Linked DNA regions of Homo sapiens. The protein of the gene in region 2 interacts with the protein of the main gene of each other region in a pairwise test. Each region holds a gene or a part of one and is shown on either strand. Other genes may lie near its edges. The genes, in order: GARRE1 and CAMKK1.

What was found.
Region 1: the proteins of CAMKK1 (region 2) and GARRE1 interact in binary tests that used the Homo sapiens proteins (3 or more experiments, as listed by UniProt).

Annotation. Positions count from the first base shown.
Region 1 is NC_000019.10:34,256,110-34,266,766, forward strand, and holds part of GARRE1 (granule associated Rac and RHOG effector protein 1), read left to right. Parts: intron 1-10,657. UniProt on the Homo sapiens protein: Acts as an effector of RAC1.
Region 2 is NC_000017.11:3,881,682-3,892,338, reverse strand, and holds part of CAMKK1 (calcium/calmodulin-dependent protein kinase kinase 1), read left to right. Parts: intron 1-1,595; exon of another isoform or gene 1,596-1,608; coding exon of another isoform or gene 1,609-1,646; intron 1,647-6,608; coding exon of another isoform or gene 6,609-6,651; coding exon 6,652-7,011; intron 7,012-7,911; coding exon 7,912-7,959; intron 7,960-8,401; coding exon 8,402-8,455; intron 8,456-8,858; coding exon 8,859-8,910; intron 8,911-9,163; coding exon 9,164-9,297; intron 9,298-9,774; coding exon 9,775-9,811; intron 9,812-9,968; coding exon of another isoform or gene 9,969-10,082; intron 10,083-10,657. UniProt on the Homo sapiens protein: Calcium/calmodulin-dependent protein kinase that belongs to a proposed calcium-triggered signaling cascade involved in a number of cellular processes. Phosphorylates CAMK1, CAMK1D, CAMK1G and CAMK4. Involved in regulating cell apoptosis.

The DNA.
Region 1 (10,657 bases), on a different chromosome or scaffold from region 2:
ATTATAGGCGTGAGCCACCGTGTCCGGCCGTAACGTTCAATTTTTAAGAATACATAGTATTTGTTTTCCTTTGACATATTTGGACAATTTTTCTGTCTCTTTGTCATAAAAAAAAATTCCAGCCTGGCGCGATGGCTCATGCCTGTAATCCCAGCACTTTGGGAGGCCGAGGCGGGCGGATCACTTGAGGTCAGGAGTTCTAGACCAGCCTGGCCAACGTGGTGAAACCCGGATTCAACTAAAAAAATACAAAAAAACACATTAGCCAAGCATGGTGGCGCGCTCCTGTAGTCCCAGCTACTTGGGAGGCTGAGGCAGGAGAATCGCTTGAGCCCAGGAGGCGAAGGTTGCAGTGAGCCGAGGTCGTGCCACTGCGCTCCAGCCTGGGCAACAGAGTGAGACTCCATCTCAAAAAAAAAAAAAAAGAAATTCATGTTTGCGTCTCATCGTTTCATGGTTTTATTTTTTTGCCTTTAGTCTACCTAAAATTCATTCTTGGTTTAAAATATGAAATATTTTGTAAATGGCTAGTCAGTTCCAGATTTATTGAATAATATGTAAGCTTTATCATTTTATCATATTTTAGACTAAAAGTTCTAAGTGTATGTTTGTAAGGGCTACTTACAAAGTTCATATTTACATTTTGTGTGTGCTTAGATGTTTTCAAGTGTCTTTAAAAATCACAGTATTTTCTTTTCACAGTATCTTCACAATATTTTGTTTTAAAAAGAAATCATTTTCCAATACAAGTACAGGGAATATTTCATGTTTGAGATTTTTTTTTTCTTTTTAAAGCAAAAAGTTTAGTTTATTGCCGTTTCATTTGCTTTCTTGCTGACAAGATAACAAACTCCATATGAAGAGTTCAGGTTTGTTGTGGCAACTTTTCAGTGTGGCATTTGAGATTCTAATCTTCCTCTATTTTTGCACACAAATACGTAGGTTGGCATTGGAGACCAAGATAGAAAAGTTCTCAGATTCCCTTGGCAAGCCTAGATTTTTCAATCTAAAATTATCTCCAGATGTTTGGAAGACCATGTTTTAAGCATCCTTTTTTTTTTTTTTAAGCAAATTGCACATGATTCTGTGAAAATTTTAGTAAATGTTTGTTCTGTTGAAAACCTATAGCCTAATACATCAGGATCCATGTGTCAAGTGGGTCTTCCAAGTCTATAGGAAATAATTGTTTCTGAAAGCTAGCAGGCTGGGATATCACATGGGTTGGGTGTCCACTCTCTTTTTTTTTGAGTCGGAGTCTCCCTCTGTCCCCGAGGCTGGAGTGCAGTGGCGCAATCTTGGCTTACTGCAACCTCCACCTCCCAGGTTCAAGCAATTCTTCTGCCTCAGCCTCCCTAGGAGCTGGGATCACAGTTGTGAGCCACCACCCCTGGCTAATCACTCTTTTTTCCTCCTGTAACTTTGTCCTTAGTGAAAAATGATGATCTTCCTAGGTAGGCAAAAAAATGTTGGTTTAGATAAGGAATTGATTTGTTTTGGAGTTATTGAAAAGCAGGTTGCCGTTTTCTCTGAAGTGTAAGTTCACAGAGAGCCTGAATGTTGTGTTTGGATTAAGGAAAAACAGCAACAGGTTGTGCTTGTGCTTCAAATGTCTTTAACTCTACTGAAACTGCCCTCTTGAGGGTCCCCTAACTGATGCATGCAGTGGCCATTGCTTAATTATTTTCCTTGACTTTGATCTCAGGTATTTGGCATGGTGAGCTATTCTTTCTTGCTCTCGTGAATCTCCCATTGATTGGCCTTCTTTTTTCTTTTTCTTTTTTTTCTTTTTTTTTTTTTTGAGACAGAGTCTTGCTCTGTTGCCCAGACTGGAGTGCAGTGGCTCGGTCTCAGCTCACTGCAACCTCTGGCTCCAGGGTTCAAACGAGTCTCCTGCCTCAGCCTCCCGAGTAGCTGGGATTACAGGTCTGCGCCACCACCCCCAGCAAATTTTTGTATTTTTAATAGAGATGGGGTTTCACCATGTTGGCCAGGCTGGTCTTGAACTCCTGACCTCAAAAGTGCTGGGATTACAGGCGTGAGACACCACGCTTGGCCTTGATTGGCCTTCTTGACTTGGAACTAGTGTGGTCATTTCCTGAAATCTGTGACTGCACTTTCTCATTTGTCTTTACTGCTTCTCTTCATACATCTACCTTGGGGCATTTTCTGAAGCCTAGTTTTGTACCTCTTACCCCCGCTCCAAAACATATTCCTTCCCACTTATCCAGTATATGAGTCCTGGGTAGAGAACCACCTCATTTCCTTACCTCTGCCACCACTTAGTGACCCCCGACTCAGAGTTTTCTGCAGGTCAATTCTTTTTCTCCTGTTCAGTAACCCCTGGACATGTTCCTGAGGCCATGCTTTCTCCAGGTGAAGAAAATATCACTTCTGGCCGGGCGCAGTGGCTCACGCCTGTAATCCCAGCACTTTGGGAGGCCGAGGTGAGCGGATCACGAGGTCAGGAGACCGAGACCATCTTGGCTAACATGGTGAAACCCCATCTCTACTAAAAAAAAAATATTAAAAAATTAGCCGGACATGGCGATGGGCGCCTGTAGTCCCAGCTACTCAGGAGGCTGAGGTAGGAGAATGGTGTGAACCTGGGAGGCGGAGCTTGCAGTGAGCTGAGATCGTGCCACTGCACTCCAGCCTGGGCGACAGAGTAAGACTCCGTCTCAAAAAAAAAAAGAAAAGAAAATATCACTTCTTTGCGAGGACAAGGTGAGAGGATTACATGCTCTCAGGAGTTGGAGACCAGCCTGGGCAACATAGTGAGACCTCTGTCTCTTAAAAAAATGAATTTTAGGTCTGGCACAGGGGCTCATGCCTGTGATCCCAGAAGTTTGGGAGGCCAAGGTGGGAGGATTGCTTGAGATCAGCCTAGGCAACATAGTGAGACTCCAAAATTATCTAGGTGTGGTGGTCCATGCCTATAATTCCAGCTACTTGGGAGGCTGAGGCCGGAGGATTGCTTGAGCCTAGGAGGTTAAGGATTCAGTGAACTGTGATTGTGCCACTGCACTCCAGCCCAAGCAACAGAGCGAGACCCTGTCTCAAAATAAATAAGTAAATAAATAAATAAATAAATATCACTTATCAAGGTGTCCTGTCCTTCCTGACTCTTAAGGTTCTTACCAGCCGGTGAATCACATCTTCCTTCTTGATATGGATTGTATTTGCCATTTGCTTTCTATCCCTACACCTCGATTTAGACTTTGTACCTTTTCTTAAGGGATTTCAGGCTTAACGTGGTCCTACTCTGGATGTGAAAGAGGAGACCCAGTGAATTTACTCAAGAATTGAGTTAGCTCACATTTATGGAGTACCTACAGTACAGCCCAGTTACTTTACTGGAAGATCAGAATACAGAGCTGGACAGCACATCCTGGGAAGAATGCCAAATAAGCAATTGTCATAAAGTATTATAAGTGCCTAGAAGGGGAGTCACCAAGTAACCTCTCCCAGGTTTCAGAGATCTTGCGTGTCTTATTTACTGCTTTGATCTCCAGGGCCTAGAACACAGTGCGTGGAAATGATGAAGTTTTTTTTGTTTGTTTGTTTGTTTGTTTTGTATTTCATTCAGTTTAATGAGGGGACATGAGGAGCCAGGGGCAGAATGATATGGTTAGGCTGTGTCCTCACCCAAATCTCATCTTGAATTGTAGTTCCCATAATCCCCACATGTGGTGGGAAGGACCTAATGGGAGGTAATTTAATCATATGAGCAGTTTCCCCCATGCTATGCTTGTGATAGTGAGCAACTTCTCACAAGATCTGATGGCTTTATAAGGGGCTTCCCCCTTCACTTGGGTCTCATTCTTCTTGCTGCTGCCATGTGAAGAAGGACGTGTTTGCTTCCCCTTCTGCCATGAATATGTTTTCTGAGGCCTCCCAGCCCTGGGGAACTGTGAATCAATTAAGCCTCTTTCCTTTATAAATTACCTAGTCTTGGGCATTTCCCCATAGCAGGGTGAGAACAGACTAATAAACCTTATTTTAAGAAATTGCCACAGCCACCCCAACCTTTAGCACCCACACTCTGATCAATTAGCAGCCATCAACATCACGGCAAGACCCTCTGCCAACAAAAAGTTTACCACTTGCTGAAGATGCAGATGATCATTAGCATTTTTTAGTAATGAAGTATTTTTAAATTAAGGTATGTGCATTGTTTTTGTGACAATGCGATTGCATACTTAACAGACTACAATATAGTGTAAATATAACTTTTATATGTACAGGAAAATAAAAAACATCATGTGACTTGCTTCATTGCGATATTCACTTTCTTGAAATGATCTGGAATGACACCTGCAATATCTCCAAGATAAGCCTATAATATCTTTTCCTGATAATTTTGGCTATATACTTCTTGATCACCTTTTCTATGACAAGGATTTGGTAATATCATTTTTTTATTTTTATTTTATTATTATACTTTAAGTTTTAGGGTACATGTGCACAATGTGCAGGTTAGTTACATATGTATACATGTGCCATGCTGGTGTGCTGCACCCACTAACTCGTCGTTTAGCATTAATGAAGTATTTGTTGAAGGAATGAATGATCATCTGAGAATGAAATCAGAAAAAATGTCATACACATTAGCTATCTATAGAAAAGATATAAGTCAAAAGATATTTCGTAAATGTAGTTTGAAGAATCTCAGGGAAAACTTTAAATTCAACCAAACTGACCCAGCTATAACCCCAGGAAGGCATGCATGGAATGTGTTTGTAGCTGGAAAGCTTAAACTTAATTTTGTATCCTCAGAAGAAATACTTGTGTTTCTGGGAGAGGATTGGGACAGTGTCTGGAAATTGGGGTGGCGGGTCCAAGAGAGGAATTACGTGGTGTGTGTGTAGCACTCTCTGGGGGCCTGACCAGAGGAGCAGTGCAGCGTTCCCTCCACAAAGCCATCTGCACTAACACACAGATGGGCGTGTCCCTGTTGTTGCCTCTGGCTGCAAGGGTCTCTCCCTTGCTTAGCGTCTGTCCTCCCAGTACCATCTGAGTAGAAGATAGCTGCACGTGGAGATTTCTTGGTAAGGAGAGAATGTGAGTGGTTGAGGGCTCTGCATCTAAGCTGCTTGGATCAGATCCTGGTCTTGGGATGCTGGCTAATCTTTCAGTTTTCTGATTTGTAGAATGGGGATAATAGTAGCACCTTTCTCTTAGTGTTGCAGTGAGGGCTCTGAGCGTGCTACCCGGCACCTGTGATAAGTATTCAATGACAGTATTAGCTCTCGTTGGTATTCATAAAGTAGTAACTGGCCTCTGGTTCATACATCAGTTTTCTTTGAGCTTAGATAGCCTAAATAATTAATCCCCATGGAACTGCTTGCTTCTGGGTGCATTGAATAAGCTGATAAACAGACACTGGGAAGTAATGACAGATAAGCTCTTCCTACACTGCTCATCCAGGGAATCCAGCCTGCAGTTCTCAGGGGAGACTTCTGGAGAAGGCTGTTCTTGAGCTGAGTACTGTGGGAAAAAGTAAGTCCAGTGCCACAGCAAGAGGGGAGGACTCTTGGGCAGGGGCATGACACGTCCAAAGGTGTGGAGGTGAGAGCAAGCATGAGGTATTTGAGCTGCAGGAGATTGAGGGTAGAGTCTGGACAGGTATGAATAAGGAGTAGAGGGAAATGACATTGGAAAGTGGGAGCAGTCCTTGAAATAACTAATAACAATGTCTAACTGGGCACTAACAGCACTTCAGGTCCTGTGCTGAGTCCTTCGACTCACTGCGCTAACCAGGTTTGATGCTGAGAGCTTTGTCTACATTGCATTGTTTAATCCTCACAACAACCCTTTGATGTAGGTACTTACCTCTGGTATGTGTGGCATCATGTCACATGTCACCTGGTAGGTCTCCCTGCCTTTTTTTTTGAAATGGAATCTTGCTCTGTCACCCTGGCTGGAAGGCAGTGGCAGGATCTCGACTTACTGCAACCTCTGCCTCCCTGGGTTCAAGCGATTCTTCTGCCTCAGCCTCCCGAGTAGCTAGGACTACAGGTGAGTGCCACCATGCCTGGCTAATTTTTGTATTTGTAATAGAGGCGGGGTTTCACCATATTGGCCAGGCTGGTCTTGAACTCCTTACCTTGTGATCCGCCCACCTTGGTCTCCCAAAGTGCTGGGATTACAGGAGTGAGCCACCATGCCCAGCTGCTGCTTTTTTTTTTTTTTTTTTTTTTTTTTTTGAGGCGGAGTCTCTCTCTCACCCAGGCTGGAATGCAGTAGTGCGATCTCAGCTCATTGCAACCTCCACCTCCTGGGTCGAAGCAATTCTCCTGCCTTGGCCTCCCAAGTAGCTGGGATTACAGGCATGCGTCACCACGCCCAGCTAATTTTTGTATTTTTAGTAGAGATGGGGTTTCACCATATTGGCTAGGCTGGTCTGGAACTCCTGACCTCAGGTGATCCGCCTGCCTTGGCCTCCCAAGGTGCTGGGATTGTAGGCGTGAGTCACCTCGCCTGGCCTCTGCTTCTTGATTCAGCCTGCACATGGCTGCCAAGATAACTCCCAGTGTCTTATATATGTTTAAAAGCTTTTTGTGATCCTGTTTCCTGATGAAGTCCAAGCACACTAAGATCCTCTGACTTCATGAAAAACCACGAAGTTAAAATGTAAAAATATTTATATCTTAGAATTTAATAAAAACAGGACAGGTGCAGATGTGGATCAAGCTCAGAGAAATCAGTGAAAGAAGCAAGGTACAGAACAATGTATGTTTGCCCATTTGTGTTTTTCTAATTTTAAAAAATTTCTCCACTTTTGAAGTAATATGAGCTCATTTGTTTAAAAAAATATATATAGGCCAGGCATGGTGGCTCACGCCTGTAATCCCAGCACTTTGAGAGGCTGAGGCGGGCGGATCACCTGAGGTCCAGAGTTTGAGACCAGCCTGACAACATGGTGAAACCCCACCTCTACTAAAAATACAAAAATTAACTGGGCATGGTGGCGGGTGCCTGTAATCCCAGCTGTCCAGGAGGCTGCAGCAGGAGAATTGCTTGAACCTGGGAGGTGGAGGTTGCAGTGAGCCAAGATCGTGCCACTGCACTCCAGCCTGGGTGACAGAGCAAGATTCCATCTCAAAAAATAAATAAATAAAAATAAAATAAATAATGTCTCCCTCTCTCGATAGAGAGATAGATAGATAGATAGATAGATAGATAGATAGATATACATGAAATAGGTTTATAAGTGCAGAAATAATTTATGGAATGATAGAAAAGAAACAGTGGTTGTTTTTGGGATGAGACCCCAGAAAACCAGGCTGTTAGGCTGAGTTAGCTTTTTCTTTGCATACCATTTTGTATGGTGTGAATTTTTTTCCCTGTGTATATGTATTTTCTTTTTTTTCTTTTTTTTTTTTTGAGACAGAGTCTTGCTCTGTTGCCTAGGCTGGAGTGAAGTGGTGCAATCTTGGCTCACTGCAACCTCCGCCTCCTGGGTTCAAGCGATTCTCCTGCCTCAGCCTCCTGAGTAGCTGGGATTACAGGTGCCCGCCACTACGTCTGGCTAATTTTTGTATTTTTAATAGAGACAGGGTTTCACCATGTTGGCCATGTTGGCCAGGTTGGTCTCGAACTCCTGACCTCAAGTGATCCATCCACCTCGGCCTCCCAAAGTGCTGGGATTACAGGCGCGAGTCACCGCACCCGGTCTATGTTTTCATTTTAACAATAACTTTTAAAATAAATGTCTATGATGGACATGGCTGTTGTGTAGAGTGAATGTAGCATGGAGGTTAAGAGTGAGGACTGTGCAAGGCGGCTTGGGTTCAAGGCCTGCCCCTGCCTTGACCTCAGTTTACCTCCTCTGAAAATGGGGAGGTAGTAATACCTGCCTCCTGGGGTTGTAGTGAGGCATTACTGAGTTAATATTTGTAAAGTCCTTGGAACAGTTCCCAGGAGGTATGTGTTTGTCGTCGTCTCTGTTGCTCTGTCCCTGTGCTATGCATGACCGTAAGTGTAAAGATGTGTCCAGCCTCTGTCTCTGATGCTCCCAGTTCATTTGGAAAGGGAGAGCATGCAGCTAATGACAGAGACAGCAGAGGCTGCAGGAGTCAGAAAGGCTCCTTGGGAACTGAGGTGGCCCAAGATGGTTTCATCAAAATGATGGTTGTTAAATATGGGTAATTTCTAGAGGGAAAATAACACAAAGGGACTTTTTCCATGTTGTGTGTCCCAGCCAGCCTGAGGCAGGCAGAGGAGTCAGAAACAGGACAAGAGCTTTGAGGAGGCCTGAAATTTGGACGTGTCATGTGATGACATGTCTTTTTTTTTTTGGAGGGGGGGACGGAGTCTTGCTCTGTTGCCCAGGCTAGAATGCAGTGGCATGATCTCAGCTCACTGCAAGCTCTGCCTCCCCGGTTCACGCCATTCTCCTGCCTCAGCCTCCTGAGTAGCTGGGACTACAGGTGCCCGCCACCATGCCTGGCTAATTTTTTGTATTTTTAGTAGAGACGGGGTTTCACTGTGTTAGCCAGGATGGTCTTGATCTCCTGACCTTGTGATCCGCCCACCTCGGCCTCCCAAAGTGCTGGGATTATAGGTGTGAGCCACCACGCCCGGCTGGCATGTCATTGTTATATGGCAGAGTTTTTCTTGGCATATATGAGACAATGATATGATTTGTAAATGGTGACATCTTTGACTCAGTGAAGTGTGGTTGCTCTGCCTTGATGTTTGGAATGGCTATGAGGTGTTCTGTGTGACGTATTTAACAATCCTCGTAATGCAGGGCACGTGGGAATAACCAGTGTTGCCAGTGAGTGTTCTTGACGCAGGCCTCTACATTAACCGTGAGTCTGTTCTAGGATTCGTGCCTAGATAGAATATTGCTTTTCTTTCTTTTTTTTAAGTCATTTTGATTATGTTCCTTGTGTCTGGGCCACTGTCAGTTAAGTGTGTTTTCAAATTGGCAGTGGCAAAGAATCATAATGGGAAGATTTTTGAAAGTGGAATTAGAGCAAGATATTACCTGAAAAAAAATCTGATTTTCTTACTAAAAATGATTTTGGGATTAAGTACTAGTGAGATGCTAATTATGGCCAGGAAACCTGGAAATAACTCGCATCTTCCCTCACCCCACCCCCGGTCCCCGAGGTGGATATATGTTCATGGGAACAGAGTTTGGGGAAAGCTGGCTTGGCTCCCAGACTTGGGTGCCGCAGGCTCTGGTGACCTAGGCAGGAAGAGGCGGAAGTGGTTCCTCTCACCAGCCACAAGGACCTGTGCTGCTCCTGGGTGTCAAGGTGGGAGAGAATGCGCTACATCCTTGTGCTTGAGTCACTTTGTAATGTACTTTGTAATTCCAGGTGATGCCCCTCCTCAACTGTGTCCCTTCTGTTCCTGCCTTTGGCTTGGGGTTGAAAGAGGAGGGAGTGGTGGGCACGGAAATGGGAGGAGCCATGACCTCTTTCCCCTCCAGCGCATAGGGCATTACTTCTTTTAGTTTGTTGCCTGGACTTGGGAGTTGGGCCCAGAGCTGCAGGAAGGTAAGTTTTATTTCTGAAAGTTGTTTTAACTTACAGATTTTGGGGGTTCGAGGGAGTTTGTTTTCGACTAGTAGAAGACAAGAATTAAGAATTGCAGTGGAAGATGAAATGCTATCTTCTTACTAATCCACGCCCTCTTTCAGAGCAGTAGCTTTCATTTACGGAGACTGAGGGTATGGCAGAGGCTGTGCTTTATGGATTTAATCCTCAGCAGTACTGAGGCACAAGAGTTAGGCGACTTGCTCAAAGTTAGTAAGTGCCATTTATTCAGCTGATATTTACTAAGAGCAGGAATTCACATCTAGATCAGTCTGATTCCCATACCCGTACCAGTAACTACTGCATTTTGGAAGTGCGTCGTTTCCATGAAGTTTCTTTGTATTGGAGCATCTACCTGAAAGGCAAGGGCCTGAGCATTTTCTCCTTTTCCCTTATTAACGGTAAGCTCCTTGAGAGCAAGCATTATGTCTGTCTCTTCACCACTGCATCCTGGGTTCCTGGAGCAGTGCTATGCACTTAGGAGAACCTTAGTGAATGTTTGAGTATGTGAAGGCTCATGGCGCAGATAAGTGGCAGAGCCAGAAGCCAGCCTGGAGGTGAACCACTGCGGGCCTGCTCTCTGGGGCTGTCTTCCCTGCCTAGCGAGTGGATGGTGAGGAATCACCTAGAATTTTCTCATTTCTTAATGTTTGACCTGATGAAATATTGGGAAGAATGAGCTTCCTGGCTGTGACTCTGATTTTCTGTTGTTTTTTTTGAGACAGGAGTCTCGCTTTGTCACCCAGGCTGAAGTGCAGTGGCGCAATCTCGGCTCACTGCAACCTCTATCTCCGGGGTTCAAGCGATTCCCCTGCCTCAGCCTCCTGAGTAGCTGGGACTGTAGGCGCATGCCACCATGCCCAGCTAATGTTTGTATTTTTAGTAGAGATGGGGTTTCACCATGTTGGCCAGGATGGTCTTGATCTCTTCACCTCGGCCTCCCAAAGTGCTGGAATTACAGGTGTGAGCCATTGCATCAGGCAACTTTCTGGTCTTTTTGAGGGATGGGAAGGTTTGCTGGGTATGCAAAATTGGAGTCAGTGTTCTCAGCTTGGAAGAGATGTTATAATTTATTGATAGAATTTTTTATGGATGCCTTAAATTCT
Region 2 (10,657 bases):
TTTGGAGGCGGGTGTGCGTGTGTCACGTGGACGCGGGAGTGTGCCTGTGTCTGCGTGGGGGGTGCAGGACAGGATGGAGTGGTGTGTGAGGGCGGGTCACGCGGACACGGGCGTGTGCCTGTCAGGGGAGGGGGTGTGCTCAAGTCTTGGCGTTGCAGGGCTGTGCAGAGAAGGCTGTGTCACAGGCCACAGGACCGGGCCTTGGTGGTGTCCGCAGGGCGGGCACAGGAGTGTGGGAGGGGCACACAGCCTGTGCGCGCTGGAGGATCCCAGGGAAGTGGCGCTGGCCTCCCCAAGCCCTGCCCTCTTTCCTCCAGTACATACAAATTGACCCCCCACTGCGTCCCAGGCGCACACACTCTGGGGACCCTTCGCCTCTTCCTCGGTCTCCCACCGTCAGTCCTCACAGCAGCCATGGGAGTCGTTTTAAACCTCACCTAACCGAGGCACTCCCCTGCTCACAACCTCCCCCTGGCTTTGGGGGCCTCCTGGGCTCTGTCCACCAAGCTCTCCCCACCCCCAAACCAAGCCCGGAGTCCCAGCCAGGAAATGACTCTCCTATATGCACAGTGCAAACTTCCATCCTCGCCTCATCCTGAAATCCTGCTCAGTGCTCAGAAGAGAGCTCAGGTGCCACCTCCTCTAGGAAGCCATCCCTGAGGCCAGCACAATGAGTGAGGGGGCTTTCTCTCCAGATGTAACTCCTCTTGCTATCAGGTGCCTCTTATGTGGGGAAGACTCCACTCCAGCCACGTCAGCCTCCCTGCTGTTCTTCATACTGAGCAAGCACTGTCCCCTCATGGCGTTTGCACCTGCTGGTCCCTGCACCTGAAATGCTCTTCCCCAGATAACTACACTGCCTACTGCCCCTTCCTTCCTTCAGGTGTCTGCTCCAGTCCTGCTCCCAAAAGGCCTTCCTCAACTACACTGTATCAGCAGCATCTCCCAGCCCCTTTCTCTTGATCCTTCTTACTCGGCTGTATTTTTCTTCCTATATGTACCACTTGACATATCATATCTGAATCACTGGCTTTCTTGTTTGTTGCTTCTTGCCCCCACGAGAAATTAAACTGTATGAGAGCAGAGACTTGGTCTTTTTGGTTCACTGCTGTATCTCCCCACACAGGCTTGCACAGAGTCTGGCAGACAGCAGGTGCTCCGTGACTATTTGTGCTTGCATCCCAGGCGTCCATGTCCCTGGCTGCTCCCTAGCCTGTGACCCCCCCCCCAACCTTGCCCCCAGTCTGAGGCCACTTCTGCTCCTCTATCCATGACATTCCGAGTTCCTGGAAGGCCAGGTCTGGGAGAACTATAACCACATTTGCATGTTGGAAATCCCTCCAGCAGCTGGTGTGGAGGATGGGGTAGGGTGGGGTGGAGGTGTTAGCCTGGAGTCAGGGAAGACCCACATAGTGGGAAACGAAGCAGTGGGTAGAATCTGGACTTCTAAGGGGTTTGACTTGGTGAGCTCACCCAGCAGGTAGTGGGGAGATCAAGGAGGGCTCAGAAGAGGCGATGTCTGAGCTGTCCTCCAGGCAGCAGAGGAGAGGGAGGTGTGTTCCTGGCAGAAGGCACAGCTTGTACTGAGGCCTGGCAGCAGAACAGAGTATGCAATTTGGGAAGCTGTGGTGTGGCTGCAGTGGAGAGTAAGTGTGGGGTTGTGGGGAGCAAGGGTGGGCAACAGGGAAAGGACGAGTGACAAGGAGGGCTCCCGGATTGCTGACCTGGGTCAGGAAAGAATGGGGAGGGTGTGGTACCCGTCTCGCAATGGAGACAGAGGAGGACGAGCAGGTTTGGGGAAGATGCTGAGTTGAATCTGGGGCCTGTTGGATCTGAGCTGCTCGGGAACATGGACGGGGAGGTGGCAGCTAGCTGGAAAGAGTGGGGCTGGAGGCACAGACCTGGTGTGGAGGATGAGGAGGGGCAGAGGATGAGGCCTGGAGACCATCAGCCTCCGTGGGTGGGCCAGGACGATGCGCTGGGGGTAGCTGTGCTGAGTCAGGCAACAGCCCGTATTGGTGCTTGGGGGCTCCCCAGGGATGGTGGGAGCGGGCGTCCTCACAGCAGGAGTCGTCAAGCATGACTTGGCACCAGACGCCTGGGCCTCCCTCAAGGGGACTGAGTCATCCCGGGTGGGGGCGGGAGCTGCGGAGGGCACCCGTTGCCAGGGCCATCCAGATACTCGCCAGGATCATAAACACAGCTCCAGTGAGGCGGCCCAGGCATGGGAGGACCACCTTCTGTGTCTGGCCTGGGTGGCCGCCACCTCTGCGGCTTTCCCTTCTGTTCGGTCCTCTGCTGGTCACGGCTGTCCATCCCCTCGCCTGGATGTAGCTGGTCCCCTGCCTCGGCTTGGCACTGGGGTTCACAGCGGCCTTCCAGCGCTCAGAATGAGGCCTGACCAGGGCCTGACCAGCTCCCAGGTGGAGCTACTTGAACCCGCGTGGATGGCAGCAGGGTCTGCCTGCTCTGGGGCTCCTTTGAGGGATGCAGCTGGATGGGGCATGTCCTGTGGAAGAAGCCAGGCCAAGTGGGCGTCTGGAGCCGGGGGCCCACATTCCTTGGGAGTGGCCAGACGCTTGGGGGGTGGGGCACAGCCTGGGAGGAAAAACCTGGGTGGGGGATATGTGCCAGGCCATCTTGGAGCTGGGGGCAGAGGTGGGGTTGGACCTTGCACATCAAGGCTCTCTTGGACGCTTCTAGACACAGCCACATCCCAGCCCCACAGTGCTGTGGCACAAACTACTCCTGTGTCCACACCTCATTCTGTTCCTTCCATCGCCCTGGGAGTTGGCAGGACAGTGGCCTTCTGCTTGATGCACGTGTTAGGAAACAGAGGCTCCAAGAGGCTCGATGACTTGTCCGAGGCAGCAGATCCCCAGTCTGGGGGGACAGGATTGCAGTAGTTTTTCCCAATGAGGGAGGGCTTGAGTCTGGCTGTTCACGGCCGCAGGACTAAGCCAGTGCCCATGCCCACAGGAATCCTTCGCTGTACCATGGGCCTGGTTCCCGGCCTGTCTGTCCATCTTTCTGTTTGCCCACATGGCCCTAGTTATCCACCGAATTAAGTTTCTACAGAGTATCTACTAAGGCCTGAGCTTGGGAAGGGCCTTGAGACACCCCCTGTGTGAGCCTCCAGATGGGCCTGGGTTTCCGCCCGGGGCACAGAATCCAGCCCAGCAGGCAGTGCCAGGCTGGTGGGACCAGTGACTATGGGGAAAAGTCCAGATATGAGCTCTGGGATCAGGCTCCCAGGGCCCCCAGGGGCGCGGACCACCCCCCTACCCTGGGCATAGGTACACGGAGACCTGCAGGCACACAGGCGCATAAACACACCTGCGCACACACACATCACACCGAGGTTTTCATCTCCATGCAGTGCGCTCCTGTGTGGGGACCCACAACACACACACACACACACACACGCCACCACCCTGGTCCACAGCCTGCGCACACATATTCCCTCCTGTGGGGACACACGCCCTCACACACGCGGCCGGGGCGCCAGGCCCTGTCTCCCGGACACGCGGCAGGAACCTCGGGCCTCCCCGGCCGGCCGCCTCCCTCGCAGACGCGCTTAGTCACCTGAATTTGATCCAGGCGGGAGGGAGGGATGGGGAGCCTGACGTCAGCCCTCGCGGCCGCCTTCCGCCCGCCCGCGCATCCATCTGGGCCTCAGCGTGTCCCGAGCAATCACAACAGCAGCCGCACAACAACAACTCACTTTTACGGCCTCCTTAGTGGCAGGCACTGTTCTGAGCGCCTTACGGGCGTTCCCTCCTCAGCATCTCACCACGTGCGGTGAGGTGAGGCCCGCTAGAACCCCATCTTGCGGGCGAGGAAAACCCAAGGCACAGAGGCGAAGCCACCTGCTCACGGGCTCCCAGCCAGGAAAGGGTGCAGCCTGGCTGCCTGGCTTCAGAGCCTGGGCGCCAAACCGGGTAACAGGGCTCAGGCTGGAACAGGAAACCTTCTGCCCCGACTTGCTGGGTGACCCCGGGCCCATCCCCACCCGCTGGGCCTCCCTCTACCTATCTAAGAAAAGCAGGGAAAGGTGTTCAAGGGTAAAGGAGGATGGCCTCTTGCTGGAATGGCAACCTCAAGGAAATACGCAAATTTTATGGGCCCGGGCAGCCTGTGGCTTCTGCCTGTGGCGGCTCTGAGTCCCGTAGTCCCTGCCTAGGGCCAAAAAGCAGGAGCTCCTGACTCTGGAGTTCATTCTGTTATATGTGCTGGGGCCTGAGGCTTGCTGGGGTTGCCTCTCTGAGGCTGCTTTCTCATCTGTCTAATGGGGACAGGGCTGTAACGATCACTATGGCAACCACTCATTTATTCAACAAATATTTATCGAGTTCCTATCACATGCCAGGCACTGATGATCTTTTGGAGACAAGGCAGATGAGCGTCCTAATCTCATGAAACTTACATTCGGGAGGGAAAAACAAGGCATGCGGAGTGAGGGGAAGGGGCGGAGGGGTGGGCCACCTGCTGGGAGGAGCCTGGCGGGTCCTGGAGGGTGTTCCCAGCTTTGGCTTCCTCCTTCCTATGCTGTCTGGTTTCCAAGCTCTCCCCGAAGCTCCAGCCCCACTCACTGTCCCTCTCACCTCCTCCAGGGAGGCCTCCCTATGCCACAGCCTCTCACCTCCTCTGGGGAGGCCTCCTTATGCCACAGCCCCACTCTCTGTCCTCTCTCACCTCCTCCAGGGAGGCCTCCCTGTGCCACAGCCCCACTCCCTGTCCCCTCTCACCTCCTCCAGGGAGGCCTCCTTGTGCCACAGCCGCACTCACTGTCTCCTGCCCTCTCTTCCAGGGAGGCCTCCCTGATACTCTAGCCTCACTCAGCCTCCTCACCTCCTTCACCTCCTCCAGGGAGGCCTCCTTGATGTTCCAGCCTCATTAACTCCCTCTCACTCCTCTGGGTCCAGCTTCCATGACTTTTCCTGTTCCTAGTGTGGAGCCTCCTCTCTTCCTTTCTCCATGTCAGCACCAGCCCCACCGCCTCCAGGCTTCTACTCATTCAACACACTGCGTACCGGGCACAGGGGGTCTGGACCTCACCCTTACCCTCAGTCTACCTCCAAACCCTGCTGTGAGCCTGGAAAATATGGGAAGGCAGGGAATCCACAGGACAAGTCGGGAGACTGGGGCTCAGAGTCGGGAAGGAGCTGGTCTAGGGCCCCTGGTGGGTCAGCAGGCAGGACTGGAACCCAGTCCTGGCTCCTCAGTGGCCGGTGGACTCCAGCCAGCCCTGCCTCGCTGACATCTGTCAAAGCAAGGGGATGGGGAACGAGCGGTAGAGCAGGCGCTTCACCATGCGTACTCTGGGTCTCCCTGAGACCCATGTTCTCAGTTGCTGTGTGGGTTCGGAGGAAGTTACCAGCAGACAGGAAGGATGGAGGGTCAGGAGTTCACTCACTTCCTTCTCCTGAGAACATGCAGAGTCCAGCGCAAGCAGGGGGAAGGGCATCAGGTTGGGCATGGCCAGCGCTCTACAAGCCTGGGACAGAGATGGGGGTCTCAGGCTGAGTGTCAGGGTTCAGTCCGGGGTCAGGATGTAGCCCAGGGTCATGGCTGAAGGTGAGGGCTGGGGGTCACCTCCCTGATGTTTCAGCCGCCACACAGTGAGTTTGAGAACATGAGTCTCAGGGGATGTCATGCCCCTGTTTCACCCCTCATTCCCCTCATTCTCATCCCCTTGCTTTTTTTTGAAACCGAGTCTTGCTCCGTCACCCAGGCTGGAGTGTAGTGGCGTGATCTTGGCTCACTGCAACCTCCACCTCCCAAGTTCACACGATTCTCCTGCCTCAGCCTCCCGAGTAGATGGGATTTCAGGTGCACGCCACCATGCCTGGCTAATTTTTGTATTTTTAATAGAGACAGAGTTTTGCCATGTTAGCCAGGCTAGTCTCGAACTTCTGACCTCAGGTGATCCACCTGCCTCGGCCTCCCAAAGTGCTGGGATTACAAGTGTGAGCCACCATGTGGGGCCCATCCCCTTGTTTTGACAGACGTCAATGAGGCAGGGCTGGCTGGAGTCGGGAGCCCCAGGGAAGTCTTCCTGGAAGCAGTGAGAGGGATGGGGGTAGGAGGCTGAAACATCAAGGAGGGCTCCCTGGAGGAGGCGGGTGGGTCTGAAGCATCAGCAAGGCTTCTGAGTTACTAGTGTCTAGCTCAGCTTCCAGGAGGCAGTGTCGGAGTGCTCTGCTGTCAAGGGTTGGGACTCATGACTCACAGGGCTGCATGCTGTGCTGGGGCTGAGCTGACCCTGGGCTCTGCCCCTTCCAGTGCTGCTGGGCCTCCAGGCTTCTGCCCTGTCTGTCCTGATTCCAGAATATCAGATTCTCTCTGCTTCCCTGTGAAGCCAGCAGGCAGAAGTGACTGCCTCTGTTACCGGCAGGGATACTGAGGCCTAGAGGGCTGGCATGCGGCAGAACCGATGTGAATTCATTCAGGTCATAGGGACAGACTTGAGTTTGGGTGTTGGCAATCCCGGTAGAGGGAACAGCCAGGGCAAAGGCATGGAGGTGGGACCCACAGCGCTGTGGCTACCTTACCTGGTAGCCAGCCTGACACCCAGGAGTGAAGCCTTCTCTGCCTTCTTTTCTCAGGTTCCCAACAAGGCTACGCAGAAGAACCCCCTTGACTGAAGCAATGGAGGGGGGTCCAGCTGTCTGCTGCCAGGATCCTCGGGCAGAGCTGGTAGAACGGGTGGCAGCCATCGATGTGACTCACTTGGAGGAGGCAGATGGTGGCCCAGAGCCTACTAGAAACGGTGTGGACCCCCCACCACGGGCCAGAGCTGCCTCTGTGATCCCTGGCAGTACTTCAAGACTGCTCCCAGCCCGGCCTAGCCTCTCAGCCAGGAAGCTTTCCCTACAGGAGCGGCCAGCAGGAAGCTATCTGGAGGCGCAGGCTGGGCCTTATGCCACGGGGCCTGCCAGCCACATCTCCCCCCGGGCCTGGCGGAGGCCCACCATCGAGTCCCACCACGTGGCCATCTCAGATGCAGAGGTTGGTGGGGCAGAACGAGGGGTTGTTCATGAGCCCCTCAGTAGTCTGCAATGAAGACTCTTTCCTGCCCCTGTCTGTGCCACACGGCTATCTAGCTTTGGTTTGCATACCCTCAGAGCTGGGGAGATCACTACCTAACAATATAGCTTCTTCCCAACCAGGGGAGCTCCAGCTGAGCCAAAGGCTGCCTTCCCTAAGTCCTGCTATTCCCACTCCCAGCCCAGGCCTAGGAAATAGGTCTCTCCCTGGTCCCCTATGTAGTCTTCTTAGAGATGTGAAGATAGATGCTATGTCCCCCTTCCCCCCTAACTCTTCTCCAGCTTGCACCCCTCGCCTCTAATTCTGCCTCTTAGAGTCTGCTGTGACTCAGAAGCGGCCGGCCTGCCTCCAGCCTCTGGGCTTCTGCTGGAGTTCTTGCCATTTAGGTCTGAAAGTGAACTCAGGTTCCAAGCAGTCTACAGATGTCAGGGGCTGAGCTTTCTGTGCCTGAACCCAGGCTCTCAGCCTCTGTGCCCAGGGCTCCTCATCTTGTCCTTGGAGTCTAGACCTTCTCATTCAGCTGCTTCTGGAAATAGTTGCTCATGGGTTTCTCATGGATTAGGGTCTTCCAGACTCCAGAATCCAGACAGGAATTAGCGTTTTCCCTTCACCACTGCTTCTGGGGAACAAGGCACAGCCATGGCGTCACCATCCATGTTTTCAAACATGAGCCACGTCTTCTCGTCACATACGGGGGCGATGGCACCACCAACTTCCCCATCCAAACTCAAAAGCTTGGTGAGACCTGGGGGTCCGGGAATGAGGAGCTTATGGCCAGAATTGGACCCTGAACGGGCTCTGAGGTAGGAGCAGTGCTGCCTCCGGACCCAGCTCCACCTGGTGCTCGCTCTTCCCCCACAGGACTGCGTGCAGCTGAACCAGTACAAGCTGCAGAGTGAGATTGGCAAGGTAGGAGTGGGCAGGCCGAGAGCAGTGGGGGCTTCGGGATTCTCTGTTTGGCGCTGCTCCTTCTCTCGTGTGGGAGGGAACGGGAGGCAGAGCCAGGCAAGTCCTAGCCTGGAGGTGAGGACAGTTTCGTGCCCTGTGGGAAGTACCCAGGTACCCAGGGGGAGGGTGGAAGATGGCTCCTGATTCCCGACTCTCTGAGTTCTTGACAGTGGACAAGGAGGGACTGAGGGAGGCATGGAGCCATGTGGAGCCAAGCAGGGGCAGTTACCAGGGCGCAGGAGTCCCCTCCCCATCTGCTACAATATTTGCCCGTGAGCCAGCTGGTGGTGGGTAGTGCAGATGGGGTGCAGGAGAGACCAGAGCTGCTCGGCTCCCCACCTCCTGAGCTGGTCCTGGGAGGGGTTGCCCTGTCCAGGTGGGGCTGACTGATGCCTATCTGCAGGGTGCCTACGGTGTGGTGAGGCTGGCCTACAACGAAAGTGAAGACAGACACTATGTGAGTCTGGGGATACGAGGGAGGTGTTGCCCAAGCCAGGCCCTGGAAGCCTGAGGGGTGGGGCAGGAGTTGTGCTTAGGAGATAGAGGACAGGGCTGCCTGAGAGTGAGCTCCCTGTCCCTAGGGGTATGCAAAGGAATGAGCTTCCTAACCCTGGGGATATGCAAGCAGAGACTGGATTCCTCTGAGGGGAAAGCTCCAGAAAGGCTTGCTGGGGGAATAAGGGGAAGGGCTAGGCTCAGATATGGCCACCCCCAACCCCGCTTAACACTTACCTGGGCCACACCCTCAGGGCCAGTAGCAGATGTCCAGTGTGCCTCTCCGGACCTCAGTCCACATGTACCAGCCTGTTCTAGCCCCTGGTGGCTGCACAGTAGTGACATTTCTGTCCCTCCTTCCTTAGGCAATGAAAGTCCTTTCCAAAAAGAAGTTACTGAAGCAGTATGGCTTTCCACGTATGTATCTTCTGATCCTGTCCCTGGGAGCTCCTAGCCTGGAGGCAGAGGAGGAGACCTCGATCCTGAGCTAGTTTTGGCTAGGAATGGGGTAGAGAGGGAGACAGCGTGAGCAGAGGCCTGGGGACAGAATGTGCCCTGTGGGTTGGGACAAGACCACGGGCATGCAAGACTCTTGCTTGAGACTGGTTTGGGGGCCACGGTGAGGCCCAGCCACCTGGAACAGGTGTTTGAGTTCTCTTCCTGGTCACAGGTCGCCCTCCCCCGAGAGGGTCCCAGGCTGCCCAGGGAGGACCAGCCAAGCAGCTGCTGCCCCTGGAGCGGGTGTACCAGGAGATTGCCATCCTGAAGAAGCTGGACCACGTGAATGTGGTCAAACTGATCGAGGTAGGGGGTGGTGGTGAGCAGGTGGGAACCAGCACCTGAGTCTCATGGGAGCCGCTTCTGGTGCTGGGGAGCCCCTAGCACAGACCCAGGGATCTTGCCCAGGTGGCAGATGTGGCTGAGGCCTCTGAGGACAGGGCCAGACTTGGGGTGGGGCTGCAGGAAGGCTTTGGGGGCCCAGCCTGGTCAGGGATGTTCCCAAGTTCCCATGGAGGGTGAGGGGCTGCCCCAGAGGCAAGAAGTGAGCCCCTCATTGCAGCTGGAGGGGAGGAAGGCTGGATGTCGTGTGGCGGGCCAGGTTGGGGGTCGGTGACTTCTGAGGCCCCATCAGTCTGGCACCACCTGTACACTTCCTGCTTCCTTGTCTGGGGTGGTTGCATGCATACTAAGGGTTCTGGGGCTGGCAAGGACCAGGAGGCCTGGGACCTCCAACCCCACGCCTCCTCAAGCCCCACCCCCATGTCTGCTCCCTCTGACCAGGTCCTGGATGACCCAGCTGAGGACAACCTCTATTTGGGTGAGTGACCTGGCTCATTCCCACAGCAGCTCACTCAGGGCTGGCCCAAGGGCTCCCTTGGGACATGTATGACCTTCAGGTGGGCGGTGTAAATGCACTGACCTCCTGGGGACAGAAGAAAAACACACGTTCTGAAGCCCTGGATTCCCTTGCCCAGCCCTGCAGAACCAGGCCCAGAATATCCAGTTAGATTCAACAAATATCGCCAAGCCCCACTCCCTGCTTCCCTCTGAGCAGCAAGACAGTGGATCCACGTGGGCTGCGCGCTCAGGTAGATGCAGGAAGCAGGCTGCATGGGTTCCCAGACACTGTAGCTCTGTGCCTCAGTTTTCCCACCTATAAAACAGGGATACTAGTGGTGTCTACCTCATAGGGTTCCTGTGAAGAGTAAATGAGTAATTATATGTAAAGCACATTCGTTATTATCCTTGTTAATAGTAATGTTATTATTTTAGTTCCTTGTGTCTGGTTCAGGGCTGGGCTTAGAGGAGGCCTCAGAAAATGGGGCAGAAGAAGAACTGGCTTAGGAATTAGAGGCTGAGGCTTTAGTCTCCACTCCCTACCCTACCTGCCTGTCTGCTATGACCTTTAGGAAAATTTCTGCCCCTTCTCTGTGCCTCAGTTTCCCCCTCTGTAAAAGGGCCCCATGCTGATGCTGATGGTTCTCACCTGGCACCTGAGGATCAGATGAGACAGGTCCATAGCAGACCCCACTCTCATGCATTTATTTGCTCTCATATCCCAGGGTCCCCTGTCCTGTCCCTGCCTCGAGTATGCCTGCATGCCTGCCCCCTCTCCTACCCTCCAGAACAGGGAGGGACCTTGGCATCGGCTGCTTTGCCAGCC